Regions from separate parts of the Homo sapiens genome. Here region 1 is linked to region 2. Evidence: fine-mapped expression QTL. Tissue or cell type: whole blood. Region 2 holds a variant in brackets; the other region holds the start of a gene. All regions are shown on one strand. Distances are between the middles of the regions.

Region 1 (10,029 bases), 96 kb before region 2:
TGCTTGAGCCCAGAAGCTTGAGACCAGCCTGGGCAACATAGCTAGATCCCCATCTCTACAAAAAAGGAAAAAAAAAGACCAGACAAGCAGCAGAATGTGCTGGGCCTGGAGGCAAAGAGAGAACAGTAGGCCTTCCCAGAGGCCCTGCCTGCCTCCCTCCATCCTCGGACAACTTACCCTCTCTGCACAAGGGGAACCTTCCACAAACCTCAAATACCCAGGATGCCCAGGGCTGGGGGAACCAGCGATGTCCACACATACTGCACTCTCCTGTCACACTCTCCTGGACACTCAAAAGATTTTTTAAATTAAAAACCAAGTCCAACTGAAAGTCAAGGTCGTTGTGGAAGAAAAAAATAACTTAATGGTGACCATGGCTGGGTCTCTCTGCGCCTGGGCAGTACAAAGAAAGGAAGCTTCCCGGGCCGCCTCCGCCACCTCTCCCAGCCCTGGCTCTGTATTTTAACTGTTCATTACAGTGAATTATTTAGCATCCCTTCCCTGCCCAGCTGACCAGCCCCACAGCCCCTCTGGCTGAACCAATTTCCTCAGCAGCTCTGGGGCCTACCCAACCTCTTTCCAGAAGTCCCCACAGCAAACCAATGACCATTTCTTTCCATTTCGGGGGACAGGCCTGGACCCAGAGTTATAGAATATATGATCATAAAGTTGCTGGGCCTCGCAGGCTGCCGCAGAAACTGCCCAAAGGACAAAAGGCAAATGCACAGCTGCAGTCCATAAAAATTTCACAGCCTCAGAAGAAGCCACTGTTTCAGGCTCTGATACTGCACAACACTCATATTGATTAGAGAGAGCATTTGCCACAGTTATTTTGAGTCTGCCTGGGCTCTCACCAAGGCCTCTTTCAAGATGTTCTTTTCCTCTTTGAGCAGCTCTTTCACGGGCTGCCTGGAGAACAGGCGGGCTCCCTGCGCTTTCCCAGTCCAGGAAGCTTTGCCCACATGGCAAAGATCAGACCTGCTCCACTTCCCCAGGATAACTCACCCCTGGCTTCCAACTAGGAAGTTCCCAGAGGAAAAGTTCACATATAGAAAGTCTTCCTGACCCTTCCCAACATCTCTTTCCAGCCTCAAGTCCCATCCCACCCACTGGCCACTGGCCAGAGCATGTTTCAGCCCCAGGGACAAGCTGGTCCATCTGCCCATATCGGGCCAGGCATGCTTACACCCGCAGGTTTTTGGCTCATACTCACACCTGCTGGCTTTTTGCTTATGCTCACGCCTGTAATCCCAACACTTTGGGAGGCGGAGGCAGGAGGATTGCTTGAGCCCAGAAGTTTGAGACCAGCCTGGGCAATATAGCCAGATCCTCATCTCTACAAAAAAGGAAAAAAAAAAAAAGACGTCTGCAAGAAAGCAGGCCCCATGACCTGACAAGCAGCAGAATGTGCTGGGCCTGGAGCCCAGCTGTTCCCTCTGCCTAGATTGCCTGCCCTCTGTGCTTGGCAAAATCCAAACCAACCTTGATAAAGTGGCCCATCCTCTGAGAAACCCCTTCACCCTGGAAAAGGGCTTCTCACCCCAGTGTTCCCACAGTCCGTTCCCTGAGGCTGCCTGGCCCTCTCCTGAGAGCTCACCATTAGAGGTCCTCTGCCCAGTTCTCTAGACCATGTGCCCCTTGAGGACAGGGATGGGCTCACTCCCTGCTGACGCCTCAGCACCCAGGGCAGTTCCTGGCTCCGAAACATTTGCTGAATTAAAATAATGAGATTCCCCTCCCTATCCTATCATAATAATGGCTCTCGTTTAGCGAGCATCAGAAGGTACCAGGCAATTCCCATACATGATCTTCCATCCTCACAAGAACCAGAGACCTTATGTAGCCTCAGCCCCATTTTCCTGATGGAAAGCAACTAAGGTTCAGAGAAGTTAAGTAACTTGCCCAAGGTCACACAGCTAATAGGTGACAGAGCTGGGGAACCAGGCAGTATAGCTCCCAGAATGCCACCTCTTTCCTCTGTACTAGGAAATTTCATTTTCATCTCACTCTGATCACAAAAGAGCTAAAGAGTTCATGGAAGTCTTAAACACTAAAGGTGGTGAGAGAGTAAAGAGGGAGGAGATGACTTTAAGACTCAAGATTCAAAAGCAAAGAAGAAGGGCTAATGTGTCTTAGATCTAGGCTGCAACCAGGGTAGCAGCTTCAGGAGAAACTCCAGTGGACAAGGCAAGGGGAGCAGGGAGCAGGTACAGAGGGGACAGGCATGGAGGGTGACCAGGCCACTGCGGGGGTCCTCTGGACAGATTTCTGACCCTCAGATCCTCTCTGGGTCCACACAGGATAATGCACACGCTGCCCACAGAAACTCAGTTTGGTACCACCTCTCCCCAGCCCTGTAACACACAAGCATTCACACACACACATACACATGCACCACACACACACACACACACACACACACACACACACACACACTTCCCATCTAGATTGCATCTAGATTGCAAATTCTCTAAAACCTCCACGGGAATTTTTCAGATGCAGCCAAGAAGAGTCTGGGGCAAATGTGTGCTCACTAATTGCTGGCCTTGGTACAGAGTCTGATTCGGGAGACAGCTCTCCTCAGGGTCAGATTTCTGTCTCTGACCAGCTGGGGGCCATGAAAATGTGCTCGAAAGTTATCAAAATATGCACACCTTTCCTGAGAGCCACTGCAGTCACCGAGGAGTGTGGGAAGGAGGAGTAGGTAGGTTTCAAAGGAGCCAGCAGCCTTCTCCAAAGCCCTGTTCAAAAATCTCCTGGTGTAGTCACCTCTGCGAGCAGTACAAAGGCCCTGCATGTGACCAAAATCTACACACACACAGCCCATTACGGGGACTCTCATGGCCTCACGCTATTAAGGTGGCCCCTTAATACTAGGAATTCACACAGAAACACATTCTGCAGGAGAGTCACAGAAAACAAAGTATAAAGGTCTGTAAATACACACACTCAAACACACCCAAACACACACACACACATTCTACTAGCTTACTGGGTCTAGAAAAGAAAAGGATCAAGTTTCCTCAAGAATTCACAAGTGAGACAGAACAGGGGAAGAGAAATGCTATTTTTTTATTACTTGTCATGGTCAATATCTTTAACCTTGGGCCCCCCTCTCCAAGCTCCTGACTTCTTGGCATTATCCACCGGGTTCTCCATCCAAGACACACCTGCCCCTTTTCGGGTGCTGAATGTTACATACCCCAAGCCCCATACCCAAAGCCCTCAGGTCCCATTGTCTGCCTGTGTTGGGGATGGCTGGGTGTGGAGGGAGGCGGGTGAGTAGGGGACCAACGCGTGGCACCTGCAGGGGAAGAATTCTCAAGGCTCTGGGGCAAACAATGGAGAAGAAGGGGCAGACCAGAAACTTCGCCTCCATCCCACCCTGCTGCCCTTCGTCAGGAGCAAGCTCTGGGAGCGGGAATCTGCGCAGCTGGCTCAGAACGCGGCCGTAGCCCCATGTGCCCAAAAGGAGACATTGTGCTTGGCGAGTGTGGGAAGTGTCCCTCCTGGGTGCAAGGAAGGCTTTCTGACACCAGTTCGCAGGCACCCTGGAGGAATAAAGCGCTGGCGCAGTGAGGAGGGCCTGAGGGTGCGGAGTGCAGGGTGCAGGGTGCAGGTGTGAGGACGGAAGCTGACAACCCCGCCGAGGGCCCTTTGAATCCCAGGGATGGGGAAACCACGGCGCTCCTGGCTCCTGGCTCGGGAAAGACCCCGGCAGGCACTGACCCGTCTGTGGGCTGCGGAGCCCGGACGGGCCCCAATGGTCCTGCCCCCACCCCCAAGTCCGGAATTGCGTCTGGGTGGGAGGGCAACCTCGGAGCCAGGGAGCCAGGGGCGGGGACCATACTCACAGGCGCTCGGTGTTCCGAGGTATATTCTTGGGAATGGCCTGCAGCCCCGTGCCGTGGCAGTCCACCGTGGTTCCGGTGCAGGTGCAGAGGGCGGGGCACGCCGAGGCACCCAGGCGCCACGCGGCTGCCCACAGCAGCAGCCAGAGCTCCGGCCGGACCGGCCCCGCCGAGGACCCCCACCCGGGAGTCAGCGCCATGGTGCCCTCACAGCGTCCCGCTCGCGAGCCAGACGGCAGCAGCCGCTGACCATCCCCGTCCGGGGCCGCCTCCAGGTGCAGTCCCGGGGCAGAGCCACCGAAGAGCCCGCGGGCTTGCGCGCGGCGCCCCTGCGGGCTGGGAGGCACCTTGCTCCTCCAAGCGACGGCGCCTGTGCGCGGACGGAGGGAGGGCGCCTTGGGCGGAGGGGGCTCGGCTCCTCTGCCGTTTCGCCGCCTGCGTCTCCCTCTCCCTCCCTCCAGCTCCCAACTGACTGCTGCGAGGAGGAAAATGGGCAGGCCCCGCGCGCGCACGCACCCTGCGCACACACCACACACACACACACGATCACACACACACCCGCGCGCTCGCTCCCACCCGGCAGTCATCCATCAATCGAAAAGCACACATCCAGGGCCAGGCTCCTCCCCGCCCTCCCCCGCCGCAGCCCCCCTCTCCCGACGACCACTCAGCGGCTGCAAGCCGCCTACAGTTTCAAAGGTGGAACCTCCGAGGCGCCGTCAGCGGGCACGGGGCTGCGGGGGATGGGAGAAGAGGGAAGGGGGTGTGACTCGACCCGCCAAGTCCTGGCTGTACACACACACACACACACACACACACACACACACACACACACACGGCGAGGATGCGCACATTTAGACGCACGCACCCCGGCACCCGCGGCCCCAGCTGCTAGTCCAGGGTGGGAGGGAGATCTTATTTTGCCGCTTGGACGCCTTCCCGGGGAGTCAGACCCGTTTCCCCCCATCCCCCGACGGCAGCAGCGGCCTCTCGGCCCCACCCGACTCGCTGTGTCAATTCTTGGTTAAGGGAAACCCTGTGCCTGTGCCCCAGGTAGCATCCTCAAGCCACCAACCTTACTTAGCCTGGACTTTGAGGATGGAGCTTTGTCGGGGGGGAGGGTCCACGAAAGCGCTAGGCGGAGTACAGTCTCCTTCCTACCTCAATGCACCCACTTCTCAGAGGGGAACAAGCTAGCCGCATGCCCAGGATGAGAATGGCTCTGATTGGAACACTTGCTCAGCAGGGCGTATTTGTACCATACAGTTACACGGGCTTCTTCCCCCGTTGTAGAAGAGAGGGACAGACATTAAGGGGACTTGGAAATCTGGCAAACGTCTTCCTCCACTCACACCAGCGTTCCTCCATTTCTGACAGGTGGAAACAGATGAAAATGAATATTCCATCTTGACATCAAAGGAGACAGAGAGGGCTGGCATAGCGCTGGGCGGCCTGCTTGGGAGAGAACCCCACAGGCCAGCCCCGTCAGACCCAGGCCTCACACCCGGCTGGGTAGGGACCTTCGTCACCGTAAGGCATGTGTGGACGTGGGTGTGAACGGGACATCCAGGTGGGGAGAGAATTCTCCTCAACCCCAGAAAAGACGAAAGATCTCCTCAACGCCAAGGACAGCTGTGGCTCGCTGGGGCAGTGTCCAGCAGTCGGGGCCTTGACGTGAGGCTGCTTGGCAAGAGGACACAGCTGGGTAGCCCGAGAAGCACCTCCCGTCTCAGGAGCGGCCTGGGTCCAGACACAGCATGGACGCATTTGGTGGGGAGAGTGTCGGGCAGGGTGGGGATAGGGGAGGTTGATAGACTCCACAAGGTTGAAGCCTTATCACCCACCAGGTACCCAAGGCTCAGGCGTTTTCTTTGCTTTTCTTTTCCATGTTGATGAGAATTTTGCAGTCTCTCTACTGTCATAGCACAGTATGTTACAATTTAGGTGGCTGATTTTATGGGCTTTTGACAGTTCTTTTAAAGTTTTCACACATCCCTGTCCATGACCTCCATCCGGTAAGTGGGTTCTTGAGCATAAGTTCAGTTTCTCAGGGGGCAGGGCTTTCTCAGGGGTGCCTGTGTGGTGGGATATTAGGGAAGCTTCCCACAAACCAGGCCGGAGTCTGAGAGGGCTGCCCCTGCCCTGCAGCTCACCAGCTCCTGCTCCATGGGGCCCCAGCCCCTCTATCCATGCTCTCCCCGCAGCCTCAGAGTGACATTCCTCCATGCCCGCTGCTTTGTTTATCCCCTCTTAGTACCTGCAGCTGCTTCTCCACACCCCTGCCCACCCCCTGGCATCCTCACTCGCTCACCCAGACACACACCCCAGCACCTGGCACTTAGTAGGCCTGTCACAGACAGCACTCAGGCTGTTGAAGATGTCTCCAGCCTTCTGCTCCAGCAGTAGCTCCCTGGTCCCAGGACCTCGGAGGGCCCCTTGGAAGCCAAGACCCATGTGGAGAAGGGAGAGAGTGTTGATTAGCCAGGCGACATGCCCCTAGGTCCTCAGAGTGACAGAGTGAAGGGGTATGAGGAAGGGTGGGAGTGAGCAGGGGTGCAAGATCAGCCCTGCCTATGGCTCCTGAGAACCAGCCCCTGCCCTAGAAGCTTCCAGACCAGCCTGGACAGTGAATCCCAAGCAGGCCCTGGGCTGAGTTGCTGCTGCCTGGCAAAGCCTGGCTTTTCCTCTGAAGGGAGGGAAGGAAGGAGCCCCCCAGACCCAGGACAAAGACTCCCCCAGCAGCCCATCACAGGGGGCCCTGCCCAAGCAGCGGGCAGCTCCCCAGCTTGGCTCCTGTCCCTGGTTCCTCCACCCCAGAACCTGGCCAGCTCCCCAATTCAGGAGGCGGCTCGCCATGAATGAGCGCAGCTCATTAGCGTGCCCGGCACATTTACTTGTTAAACAACTGCCTGGCTGGCCGCACACCCCCAAGCCCCACTCTGTTTTTTCAATTTCCTCTCCCATGCCCCTCCCTCTCTTGGGTCTCCCTACCCCCTCCCTGCAGCCGGGCCACCTGCTCCCGCTGCACGGGTGGGGAGGAGGCAGGCCTGGCACATTGCTTCTGCCAGGAATACTCCACCAAGCCTGTCCCTGCTCACCTGCCACCAGCAGGGCAACCCCCTGGAAGGGAAATTTGAGGTTGAGTCTCCCCAGCCCAGTGACGTGAGTCCCCTCTGAGTCCTCTCAGCCACATGTGCTGGGAGTTGAGGGCCACTTCCCCCGTGTGACTCAAGAAGAGAGCGTTCTCTTTATGGCTTCTGCACAGAGTCCTCTCTCCCACCGCCACCAGCCCCTTTTGGAGCACCAAGAAGCGGGAGAACCTGGGTGAGGCTGAGGAGCATTGTGGGATGGATTTCCAAACTGCAAAAAGGAAAAGTGAGACAGAATGCCTTCTAAGTAGACATCTGATAAACACCACTTACGGAGTATCTGTGTACTACATGTGCTGTACTGGAACTCAGCAATTCAACAGGGGACAAGAATGGCCCTGGCCCTCAGTGGGCTCACTGTCCGGTGGGGGCACAGAAACAGGAAGCAGGAAAGCATATTCATTTGGGTGTCAGCGAATGTGGAATTGCAGAGAACCCAGAATGAGGGCACAGAGTGGGGCTGGAAGGCTCCCTGGAAGAGGAGGCACTTGAACTAGGTCTTGAAGGATAAATAGGCATTCTCTGGGCAACAAAACAGGAAAAAAGGCTCTCTCAGCAAAGAGAAGCACTTGAGGCAAGTCACACAGACTGGGGGCAGCATTCTCAATGGCTGAGCTGGGGCACGTCCAGCAAGGCTGGATTGTGGCAGGGGGTTCAGGTGGGGAGCACAGATGGAGGTTACAGAGGTAATGAGGACACACCCCAGAGGCCCTGGTGCAGCCTTTCTCTGGCTTCACTGGGCTTTCAGCATCACCTGGCCTGGCCCTGTCCTCAAACACATGTCTATATATGCATGGGCTTGGAAATGCACCACCTCTGGAACCAGTGTCTCTGGAACCTGGTGCTTCCAGGGAGGTGACTTGGGAGGTAGCAAGGAGAAAGTTGCAGCAGATGTTTCTTTTCTACTGTTTGGGAGGTTTTTTGCTTGTTTTTTGAGATAGAATCATGCTGTGTTGCCCAGGCTGGAGTACAGTGGCACAATCATAGCTCACTGCAGCCTCCAACTCCGGGGCTCAAGCGATCCTCTCGCCTCAGCCTCCCAAAGTGCTGGGATTACAGGCGTAAGCCACCACACCCAGCCTTTGTTCGGATTTTTTACCCTGTGTGGTAGGAGCTAATTTCCCCCTACCAATACATTTTAACCCCCCTGGGGTGCTTATCATACATGCTGATTCCTGTGACCCACCCCCGATCTTCCCAGTCAGAACCTTCAGTGTTAGCAAGCTGGGAATGGGGGGTAGAGGCGGTGCTAATTCTGATGCAGGTGATTCCAGAGACCATGCTCTAAGAATCAAGGCCTGGTGTGCTGAGTTATGAGTTTGGAATTAGACTGAAAACTCTGGGGAGCCATTGAAGGAAGGAGCCTGGCAGGGACAATGGATCTGAGGCCCACCTGCCTTCCTCATCTCCAGGTTCCACACACCATTAGCAAGGATGAGGCATGTGAAAGAGAAAGATGGTCAAGGGAGAGTGGCAGGGGAGTACAAGATGTCAGAGCTGGAAGGGGATTAAAAAATGATCAAATCCAAGCACCAGTAAACAGTTAGAAGCCCAGAGAAATGAAGCAACCAGCCTGACCTCACAAGGCAAAGGAGCTGCAGAGGTGGGCCGTGAATGAGGCCACACACCCGGGCAGAACACAGCATCCAGTCCATCCTGGGCACTCCTCCTGGCCCTGCCACCACAGGGGAACTACGAAAACAGGAGTCTCTGGGAAGTCTGTGCCAGCAGGACTCATGATATCTTAGCTTTAGTCTCTAAACCCCTGGCTATTGTCAAATTTGGAGGAGGCTGAATTGTTGGAGGCTCTCAGTGGCAAAGCCTACAGCAAGGACAAGCTCCTAGACTAAAGGTCAAGTGGCGTTTATAGCCCAGAGGCCATCATAGGCATCCAAGATAACTCTGGTAAATAGAAGCACTGGAAGCAAGAGAGAAGCAAAGTGGGTGCTGGGGTGGGAGAAGAGGAGGAAAAGAAAGGCAGAAAGCAGGCAGACAGCCTGCACTGACAGCAACCATTCATCTATTCATCAGACATTGATTGCATGCCAGCTGAGAGCCACGCACTGGAAATAGAAGAGATCTGTGCTTTGGGTTCACTGGGTTTCCTGTATCTTGTTCACAGTTTTCATCAAATTTAAAGTTTTCAACCATTATTTCTTCACTTTTTTTTGTTCCCTCCTCTCTTTCTTCATTTTTGGGGGCCCCATTTATACATAATTAGGCCATTTGGAGTTGTCTCATAGTCCATGGATGGATGATGCCCTGTTCCTTTTTTTAGCCTTGTTTCTCTCTCTCTTTCGTTTTGGTGAGTTTCTCCTGGTGTATTGTCGTGTTCATTATCTTTTCTTCTACAGTATCTAATCTGCTGTTAATCCCATCTGGTAATTTTTTTTTTTTTTTTGAAATGGAGTCTCACTGTCACCCAGGCTGGAGTGCAGTGGCACAATCTCAGCTCACAGCAACCTCCGCCTCCCGGGTTCAAGCGATTCTCCTGCCTCAGCCTCCCAAGTAGCTGGGACTACAGGCGTGTGCCATCGTGCCTAGCTAATGTTTGTATTTTTAGTAGAGATCGGGTTTCACCATGTTAGCCAGGCTGGTCTGGAACCCCTGATCTCAAGAGATCTGCCCACCTCAGCCTCCCAAAGAGCTGGGCTTACAGGCCTGAGTCACCGTACCGGCTCCATCTGGTACAATTTTTATCTCAGACATTGTACTTTTCATCTCTAGAAAATCTACTTCGGTTTTTTTTTTTAATCTTCCACGTATCTTCTTAACATGCTTATATTTTCCTCTACCTTAGTGTACATATGGAATATAGTTGTAATAACTACATTACCAATTCTATTATATGTATCACTTCTGGGTTTGAAATGATTGATTACTTTTCTTCTTCATTATGGATCATATTTTCCTACTACGTAGTCCCCCCTTATCTACATAGGGATACATTCTAAGACCCCAGGTGGATGCCTAAACCAAGGATAGTACCAAACCCTATTACATTATGTTTTTCCTATACCTACATACCC
Region 2 (9,222 bases):
AGATATAACTCAGTGAACAGAATTGAGAAGAGTGTGCCAAATGAGTATCAATCAGGTGGATTGTGGCCTATCATGTCAAAGTGGCATAAATTTATCAATCTAGTAATACTAAAAAAATAATAATTTGTATAACCTACTCACAGTATACAATTACCACTTTTACCACTAGATGGAACCCTACATGTAAGGTGATATGCTCAGTGAAAGGACTGGAAACAATCCACAGCTGAAAAATCAATTACAGAAAAATGAAATGCAAGTGCTTCTGAGGCATGTTGAAGCCATGAATCTGCAAAATTCAAGGCAGTTAAAAAAAAAAAAAACTGCATCCTGCAGATGTATCTTTTGGCTGACTATACCAAAACTGCATACCCACAAAACTAAATGTTTCCTCCCTGGTGAATTGCCTAACTTGATTTGTTTTCCAAGAACCACAACCTTGGCAAGATTTATCAAAATATGAGCTATATTTAAAGTTGTCTAAATCTGATTTACCACCCTGAGAGAAGAATGCCCTCTCTCTTACTGCTTTTTCAACTCTAAAAGGCTCTGAAACACAGCTTTAAATGTGTCACTTTGTTGGAAAGCTGTTAGATAAGAAATACAACTATCAAAGAAAAGACTGTATTCTTCCCTCTTTCTATGTATCAAATTTAAGCCAGTATCATGAAAGCTGTACATAAAAAGAGAAGAGAAAACTAAACAGGCCCTACATGTCCAAGCTGGTGGTGCTTTTTAATACCAGAGACAGTTCAACATTAATAAGTCGTACCACAATTCAGGGAACGATATCCAATTTCTTAGATAAAATTTTTGAAATATTTATACCCTAAGGTCTGCCCTTAGGAGTAGCTGTGCAATGTTTTATAGTATGGACTACAAAATTATCTCTAAGTTAGACTCCAAAAGTCTGCAAATATATTTAGCCCCTATATTTGATCTCAACCTGAACAAATTTCTTTCTTGCTTGCTTTTGTGTGTGTGTGTGTGCGTTTTGTTTGTTTGTTTGAGGCTGGGTCTTCCCTTGTTGCCCAGGCTAGAGTGCAATGGCGCAATCATGACTCACTGTAGCCTCAACTGCCTGAGCTCAAACAATTCCCCCACCTCGTCCTCCCAAGTAGCTGGGACCATAGACATGCACAGCCACACCTGGCTAATTTTTTTTTATTATTTGTAGACACAAGTCTTTCTACGTTGCCCAGGTCTCAAATTCCTGGGCCCAAGTGATCCTCGCACCTCGGCCTCCCAAAGTGCTGGGATCACAGGCATAAGCCACCACGCCCAGCCCAAATTTCAAACTAATAATACAACTTAACCAAAATTAAACTGGCAAACTATTCTGAGATGAAAAAACTCTTGATTGCCTACCTTCTTAACCTAAACATTTTTGGAATCCTAATCTAAGATTCTGCCCTATGGAATGACAATGTAATATTCTCAGTCAAGAATGATGAGTATAAATAATGCCAATTTACTCACTCATTTATTTGCTTGGTAATTTTTATCTTTCTGGGTGTCATATGAATAAGCATTAATTATGCTGCTGACACCTTCCTTAATTTTTCTCCCTCATGCTAGTGTACAATGGGAAGAAAGTTATTTGTATTAAGAAAGTAACATCAGGCTGGGTGCAGTGGTTCACATCTGTAATCCCAGCACTTTAGGAGGCCGAGGTGGACAGATCATTTGAGGTCAGGAGTTCAAGACCACCCTAGCCAACATAGTGAAACCCCATCTCTACTAAAAATACAAAAGAATTAGCTGGGTGTGGTGGTGCACACCTGTAATCCCAGCTACAAGGGAGGCTGAGGAAGGAGAATCACTTGAACCCGGGAGGCAGAGGTTGCAGTGAGCCGAGATCACACCACTGCACTCCAGCCAAGGTGACAGACCAAGACTCCATCTCAAAAATAATAATAATAATTAAAAGAAAAAAAAGGTAACATCAAAATTCCCTATTAACTTGGAAAAAGTTCTATAGGATGCTTCACTGATAATACAGTCTCTTTCTTACCATTTATCTAAAAAATATTTGCTCCTCAAAAAATCAGAGTCAATGCTTCATGAGTCTCTCTTTTCCTATTTTTTTTTTTTCCCCTAAGACAGGGTCTCACTCTGTTGACCAGGCTGTAATGCAGTGTGCAATCATAGTTCACTTCAGCCTTCAACACCTGGGCTCAAGGGATCCTCCCATACTCCCACATCAACCTCCCAAAGTGCTAAGACTAAAGGTGTGTGCCACCACACCTGGCTAATTTTTTAATACAGCCCAGGGTCTCACTATGTTGACCACACTAGTCTCAAACTCCTGGCCTCAAGCGATCCTCCCAGCTCAGCCTCCCCAAGTGCTGGCATTAGGCATGAGCCACTGCACCCAGCCTCCTACAGACTTTTAAGTGCCATGAGTCTCAGGCAATTAAAACTAGAAGTACTTCTACGTATGATCTGATTAGGTCCTAAAAGACTACTTCTATATTCATTTGTTCCAAAGTTCAGAGTGACACATACTATCCAAGAGACAGCTAATGGTTTTTGTTCTGGCACATGACTTGTTCATATCTACACAAGTTCACAAATTGAAAATTCTTAAGAGTTTCTGGCCAGGCACAGCGGCTCATGTCTATAATTCCAACACCTTGTGAGGACAAGGTGGCAGGATCACTTGAGCCTAGGAGTTCAAGACCAGTATAAGCAACCTGACAAGACTCTGTCACTACAAAAAAAAAAAAAAAAAAAAATTGTTTTTAAATTAGCCAGGCATGGTTGCTTGAGTCTACGGTCCCAACTACTCAGGAGGCTGAGGTAGGAGGATCACCTAAGCCCAGGAGGTCAAGGCTGCAGTGAGGTGTGTTCTTGCCCCTGCACGCCAGCCTGAGTCATAACAGAGTGAGACCCTGTTTCAAAAAAGAAAAGAGTTTCTATACTTGTAGTCAGCCAGAAATATTCAATATTTCACAAATTTAACTATAAATCTTTTCATCAACCAACATAAGAAGGTGAATTGCTTTTCTGAGACATATGGTACCCAAACAAGAAATCGATCACTTGTGTGTCATTTAAAATCAATCCAATCATGATCTACTAATTGCTTTGTAACTTTA[C/A]GGTATTGTAAGGTATAGGGGACAAAAACTAAGGTAAGTCTCTGGCCTCCAGGAACTGAAAATTCACTAAGTGCTACGCGATTTCAAATAGTAGCTAAAGACCACAACGCAAAAGATGATACAAGATCATTAATAGCCAAATGCATGATACAGACAATAAAGGCTCTAAGAATTCAGGAGAGAATCTTTTACCCATATACAAGAGATTTGAGCTAGATCTTAAAGACGTGTAGGAGTTAGACAGTGGGAGAAAAAAAGAGCTAATACTTAAGGTGCTTTTTGGTTTCTCAGGGTTTTTTTAAGAAACATAAAATGTTTTCGCCACACATTAGTGGCCAGCCCTTTTCAAAACATAAATTTAAAGAGAGGTACACAGGGGAGTTACAGAGATAGCACAGTGGACATCTGCTGCTTTTGAATTCCCAATACGTATTTTCCCCTTCCTCTGGTAACAGCACCCCCATTTTCCTTTAAGCAATAAACCTCTCCCCATCTTTCGAATCTATGTGACCTGGTGGGCACTGCCTGTGAGCATGTCATCCAAGCTTAACCAACTGAAACATTCTATTCCCTTCATGAATCCAAGCAAAGGCCCACAAGTCAAACCAGGACAAAAAGTCTCAACTCCAAGACTCTTGTGAATCCTAAAATTGCTAAGCTGGTGGGATGTAAGACTGACACCGTTGGTGGCCTATTACTGCCACTTTTTATACAGAATCTGCCTTCTTAGGAAGCAAATACAGAGGAAACCAGATCTAAGACAGTAAAGAGGTAGATATCTAACAACACTGAGATTTGAGATTTTCCATACAGATTAAACCATACTTGATTTATCCCCTGGACTTTTCAGTTTCTTGAGCCAATTAATAGAGTCTCTTTTTGCTTAAGCTAGTTTTAGTTTCTATCACATATAACTGAAGAATCCTAACAAATATGAATGTGTAAGTCTGTTTGTCCCAGTATGAATCTGAGCCCTCCCTTCTGTATCTTCCCCTTCAGAGCAATGGCTGCCAATCAGTCAGCCATGGCCATGCCATCTCCAGCAAGGTCTGGAACTCTGCCCTAGGGACCCTCTTCCTTGTACATTCTAACTCAGCTGATTCCTGTATCTATTTCTATATTTCTTAGAGATCTCTTTACTTCTTACTAGCCAATTCCTTGTTACTCGAATCCCCAGTTATAGTTTATAACCTATTAAATGTTCTCTGTTTAAAGTACTATGTAGTTTCTTTTTTCTTTTTTTTTTTTTTTTTTTTGAGACAGAGTCTCACTCTGGTCGCCCAGGCTGGAGTGCAGTGGTGCGATCTCGGCTTACTGCAACCTCCACCTCCCAGGTTCAAGCGATTCTCCTGCCCCAGCCTCCCAAGTAGCTGGGATTACAGGCGTCTGCCACCACGCCTGGCTAATTTTTGTATTTTTAGTAGAGACGGGGTTTCACCATATTGGCCAGGCTGGTCTTGAACTCCTGACCTCAGGCAATCCACCCACCTCAGCCTCCCAAAGTGCTGGGATTACAGGCGTGAGCCACCCGCCCGGCTGTTACTATGTAGTTTCTATGGCCTAGCTGAATTTAGTTTATATCGGGTAACAGTAGCAAAACATCAGCACAAAATAAATAGGCTCCAGCATCTGTAGAAACAACCCACCCTAAAAGATGGTTAGTAAAAGTGTAGGTGAGAGTGTTCACTGAAGGTGACCAGAGGGCATCTTCAGGAGGCTGAGGTGGGTGGATCATGAGGTCAAGAGTTCGAGACCAACCTGGCCAACATGGTGATACCCCGTCTCTACTAAAAATACAAAAATTAGCCAGCATGGTGGCGCATGCCTGTAGTCCCAGCTACTCGGGAGGCCGAGGCAGGAGAACTGCTTGAACCCAGGAGACGGAGGCTGCAGCAAGCTGAGATCATGCCACTGCACTCCGGCCTGGGCAACAGAGTGAGACTCTGTCTCAAAAAAAAAAAAAATTGTATTTCAATCACTCTTTTGCTATACTGTTTCCAACCAGAAATGATGCACTTATTGGGAGGAAACTGGGAAACCAAGATAGAAATCAGATCTTGGATGGGTCATATTTTAGATAAGAGGCATTACAGTTTAAGACTCAGAAGGAACCAGACATGGTGGCTCACACCTGTAATCCCAGCACTTTGGGTTGCCAAGGTGGGAGGAGTACATGAGCCCAAGAGTTTGAGACCGCCTAGACAACATAGTGAAACTTCATCTCTATTAAAAAAAAAAAAAAAAAAACTGTCTCAATATTAATAATGGTTGTATCTATCTGGTAAATTGGAGTGGCTAGTTTACCATTTTTCTACATATTTTTCTTTCCTTTTTTTTTCTTTTTTTTAGAGACAGGGTCTCACTCTGGCACCCAGGCTGGAGCACAGTGGTGTCATCATAGCTCACTGCAGCCTTAAGCTCCTAGGTTCAAGCAATCTTCCCACCTCATCCTCCCCAGTAGCTGGGACTACAGGTGCACACCACCACACCTAGCTTTTTTCTCTTATTTTTATTTGTATTTTTTGCTTTTTGTTTTTGAGACATTGTCTCACTCTGTTGCCCAAGCTGGAGTACAGTGGTGCAATCTTGGCTCACTGCAACTTCTGCCTCCCAGGTTCAAGCGATTCTCTTGCCTCAGCCTCTTAAGTAGCTGGGATTACAGATGTGCGACACCATGCCCAGCTAATTTTTGTCTTTTTAGTAGAGACAGGGTTTCACCATGTTGGCCAGGCTGGTCTCGAACTACTGACCTCAAGTGTTCTGCCCACCTTGGCCTCCCAAAGTGCTGGGATTATAGGCGTGAGACACTCAGACCAGCCCCCATTTTTTTCTACATATTTTTCTAGCCTTCTGTAGTAAATATTATATAAGTTTATTTCATAGTGGGGAAGAGGGGAAAAAAGTATATACTGGGGGTTTTTTGAGGCAAGGTCTTGTTCTATTGCCCATGCTAGAATGGTGGCATACTCACGGTTCAGTGCATCCTTGACCTCCCAGGCTCAAGCAATCCTCCTGCCTCGGCCTTCCTAGCAGCTGAGACCAGAGGCATGTGCCACCACGCCTGGCTAACTATTTTTATTTTTAGTAGAGACAATGTCTTGCTAGGTTGCCCAGGCTGGTCTCAAACTCCTGGGCTCAAGTGATCCTACCACCTCAGCCTCCCAAAGTGGTAGGATTACAGATGAGAGCCACCACTTTTAGCCAAACTATATACTCTTAACAAAAAAGAAAGAAAGAAAAAAAAGCATATACTTTTTTTTTTTTTTTTTTTTTCCTGTGAGACTGAGTCTCGCTGTGTCGCCCAGGCTGGAGTGCAATGGTGTGATCTTAGCTCACCACAACCTCCGCCTCCCAGGTTCAAGCGATTCTCCTACCTCAGCCTCCCAAGTAGCTGCGATTACAGGTGCATGCCACTGCACCCAGCTAATTTTTTGTATTTTTAGTAGAGACGGGGTTTCACCATGCTGGCCAGGCTGGTCTTAAACTCCTGACCTCAGGTGATCCGCCCGCCTCCGCCTCCCAAAGTGCTGGGATTACAGGCATGAGACACTGTGCAAGGCCGAAAGTATATACTCTTAAAGCTTCAATGGATTTGTAGGTTGTAGATGTTCCATATAAAAAATGGCTGGACACAGAACAATGCGAATGTAGTTAACATTAATTAACTACACACTTAATAGGTAAGATGATAAACTGTTATGTTTTTTAATACAATTTTTTAAAACAAATTTATTTTTATTTATTTTTTTTAACAACAGGGTCTCAGTCACCCAGGCCAGAGTGTAGTGGCGGCATTCTAGCTTATTGCAGCCTCAAACTCTTGAGCTCAAGTGATCCTCCTGCTTCAGCCTCCCAAGTAGCTGGGACTGCGGGTATGTGCCACCATACCTAGATAATTTTCTCTTTTTTTTTTTGCTTTTTTTTTTTTTTTTTTGAGACAGAGTCTCTCCCTCTGTTGCCCAGGCTGGAGTATAGTGGCACAATCTCGGCTCACTGCAACCTCCAGCTCCCAGGTTCAAGCAATTATCCTGCCTCAGCCTCCCTAGTAGCTGGGATTATAGGCAACCGCCACACACCCAGCTAATTTTATATTTTTAGTAGAGACAGGGTTTCACCATGTTGGCCAGGCTAGTCTCGAACTCCTGACCTCAAGTGATCTGCCCGCCTCGGCCTCCCAAAGTGCTGCGATTACAGGCGTGAGCCACCATGCTTGGCCTAAGCCAAATGTAATGTTTACAGCAAAAAGTTTACAGATTTCCTATATCACTCTTTATAACACTACCGACCCAATTGTTCTGACCAAAGTAAACTTGTGCAACAATATCTGCTTTGCTTTATGCTGTGGTTTCATGCCACTTACCAGTTTATGCAGATTAATTTTAAAATTCTGTTTTCTTCCTTCCCCTCCTTCCAAGACAGGCCTTATTTACAAATATGATCAAACTCTCTAAACCTGATCATTGATAAAATGTAAAATAAAACCAGATTCAAGAAAATCCCCTGAAGAAATCTACTCCTCATTACCCTTCAGATAGAATTTAACAGCACAAATACAAAACTAGATTCAGGTTTTCTCACTTAACTGTGCATGTAAGAACAGACAAGTCTTCCTGGGATCAATAAAGGTTTAAACCTTTTAAACCATTTTTCTCGAAGGAACACATTACTGTCTTATTACAGAAAAAGCAATTTAACCAAAAGGCTCAGGCCAGGCACGGTGGCTCACACCTGTAATCCCAACACTTTGGGAGGCCAAGGTGGGTGGATCACCTGAGGTCAGGGGTTTAAGACCAGCCTGGCCAACATGATGAAACCCCATCTCTACTAAAAATACAAAAATTAGCTGGACGTGGTGGCACATGGCTGTAGTCCCAGCTACTGAGGAGGCTAAGGCAGGAGAATTGTTTAAACCCAGAAGGCGGAGGTTGCAGTGAGGCACGATTGCGCCACTGCACTCCAGCCTGTGCCACAGAGCGAGACTCCGTGTCAAAAAACCAAGGCTCAGAAGTCATGTTTACTAACCAATATTCCATACCTAAGGTATATGTAAATTAACAAGACATAGAACCCTTTCCACATCTTCAGACACCTCCCCTGTCCTCCAGAAACATTTCCAGGCATTCTACTGTCTGTTCCTAAGCTGGCTCTTCATGTAATAATAGTTAGCACTTTCTTTTTAAGTCTCTTTTTAATTAAAAAATACTAAGCTGTGCGTATTTCCCTACTGCCAATTATGAGGAGAAGTAGCTTTATTTCATTTCCTGCTTTCGCCTTTTCTCTTTGACCCTTAAAGGTCTGTATTATGTTTATACTATTATTGATAAAGTGGATAGTTTTTTTTGTTTTTGTTGTTGTTGTTGTTTGTACAGGGTCTCACTCTATCACCCAGGCTAGAGTGCAATGGCAGGATGATGGCTGTTTGCAGCCTCCACCTCCCGAGCTCAAGTGATCCTCCCACCTTAGCCTCCCAAGTAGCTGGGACCACAGGCGTGCATCACCACACCTGGCTATGTGTTTTTATTTTTTTTATAGGATCTCCCTATATTGCCCAGGCTAGTCTCAAACTCCTGGCCTCAGGTGATCTTCCTGTCTCTGCCTCCCCCTCCCAAAATACTGGGATTACAGGCGTGAGCCACCATGCCTGGCAGTGGATATTTTCTATTTGTGATTCCCCTTTAGTATTGTCTGCTTAAGAGTAACTTGAAGGTATAAGAAATGAAATGTGTTAAATTTTAAAGGACCATTCTACTTAATAAAAACCAGAAATGGAAGGGAGGGGGTGTTCCTCATCAACAGGTCAAAAACATAACATGGGAATCTTTATAGGCAGAGCAATTTTTCCTTGTTTAAATCTTTGGCCAGGTGCAGTGGCTCACACCTATATTCCCAACACTTTGGGAGGCCAAGGCAAGAGGAATGCTTGAGCCCAGGAGTTTGAGGCCCACCTGGGCAATATAGGGAGACTCAGTCTCTAGAATAAATTTTAAAAATTAGCCGAGTGTGGTGGCGCATGCCTGTAGTCCCAGCTACTTGAGAGGCTAAGGTGGAAGGATTGCTTGAGCCCAGAAGGTCATGGCTATAGTAAGCCATCATCATGCCACTACACTCCAGCCTGGACCAC

Evidence for each region. PIP is the estimated chance that this variant, and not a neighbour inherited with it, causes the effect.
Region 1: it holds the start of SLIT1, and the variant in region 2 is fine-mapped to the expression of SLIT1 in whole blood (TOPMed, PIP above 0.99).

Annotation. Positions count from the first base shown.
Region 1 is chr10:97,181,624-97,191,652 of GRCh38, forward strand. SLIT1 (slit guidance ligand 1) reads right to left here and starts at 4,336. Exons shown (of 37, transcript NM_003061.3): 1 at 3,855-4,336. The coding sequence starts at 4,051. The region is part of intron 11 of ARHGAP19-SLIT1 (ARHGAP19-SLIT1 readthrough (NMD candidate)); the gene reads right to left. RefSeq lists enhancers at 4,180-4,680, 4,681-5,181.
Region 2 is chr10:97,278,503-97,287,724 of GRCh38, forward strand. All of the region lies in intron 1 of ARHGAP19 (Rho GTPase activating protein 19), which reads right to left. All of the region lies in intron 1 of ARHGAP19-SLIT1 (ARHGAP19-SLIT1 readthrough (NMD candidate)), which reads right to left. Among named protein-coding and RNA genes, the nearest start is that of ARHGAP19, 9.5 kb to the right of the region's middle. The variant C/A (reference allele first, on the strand shown) is at 3,102.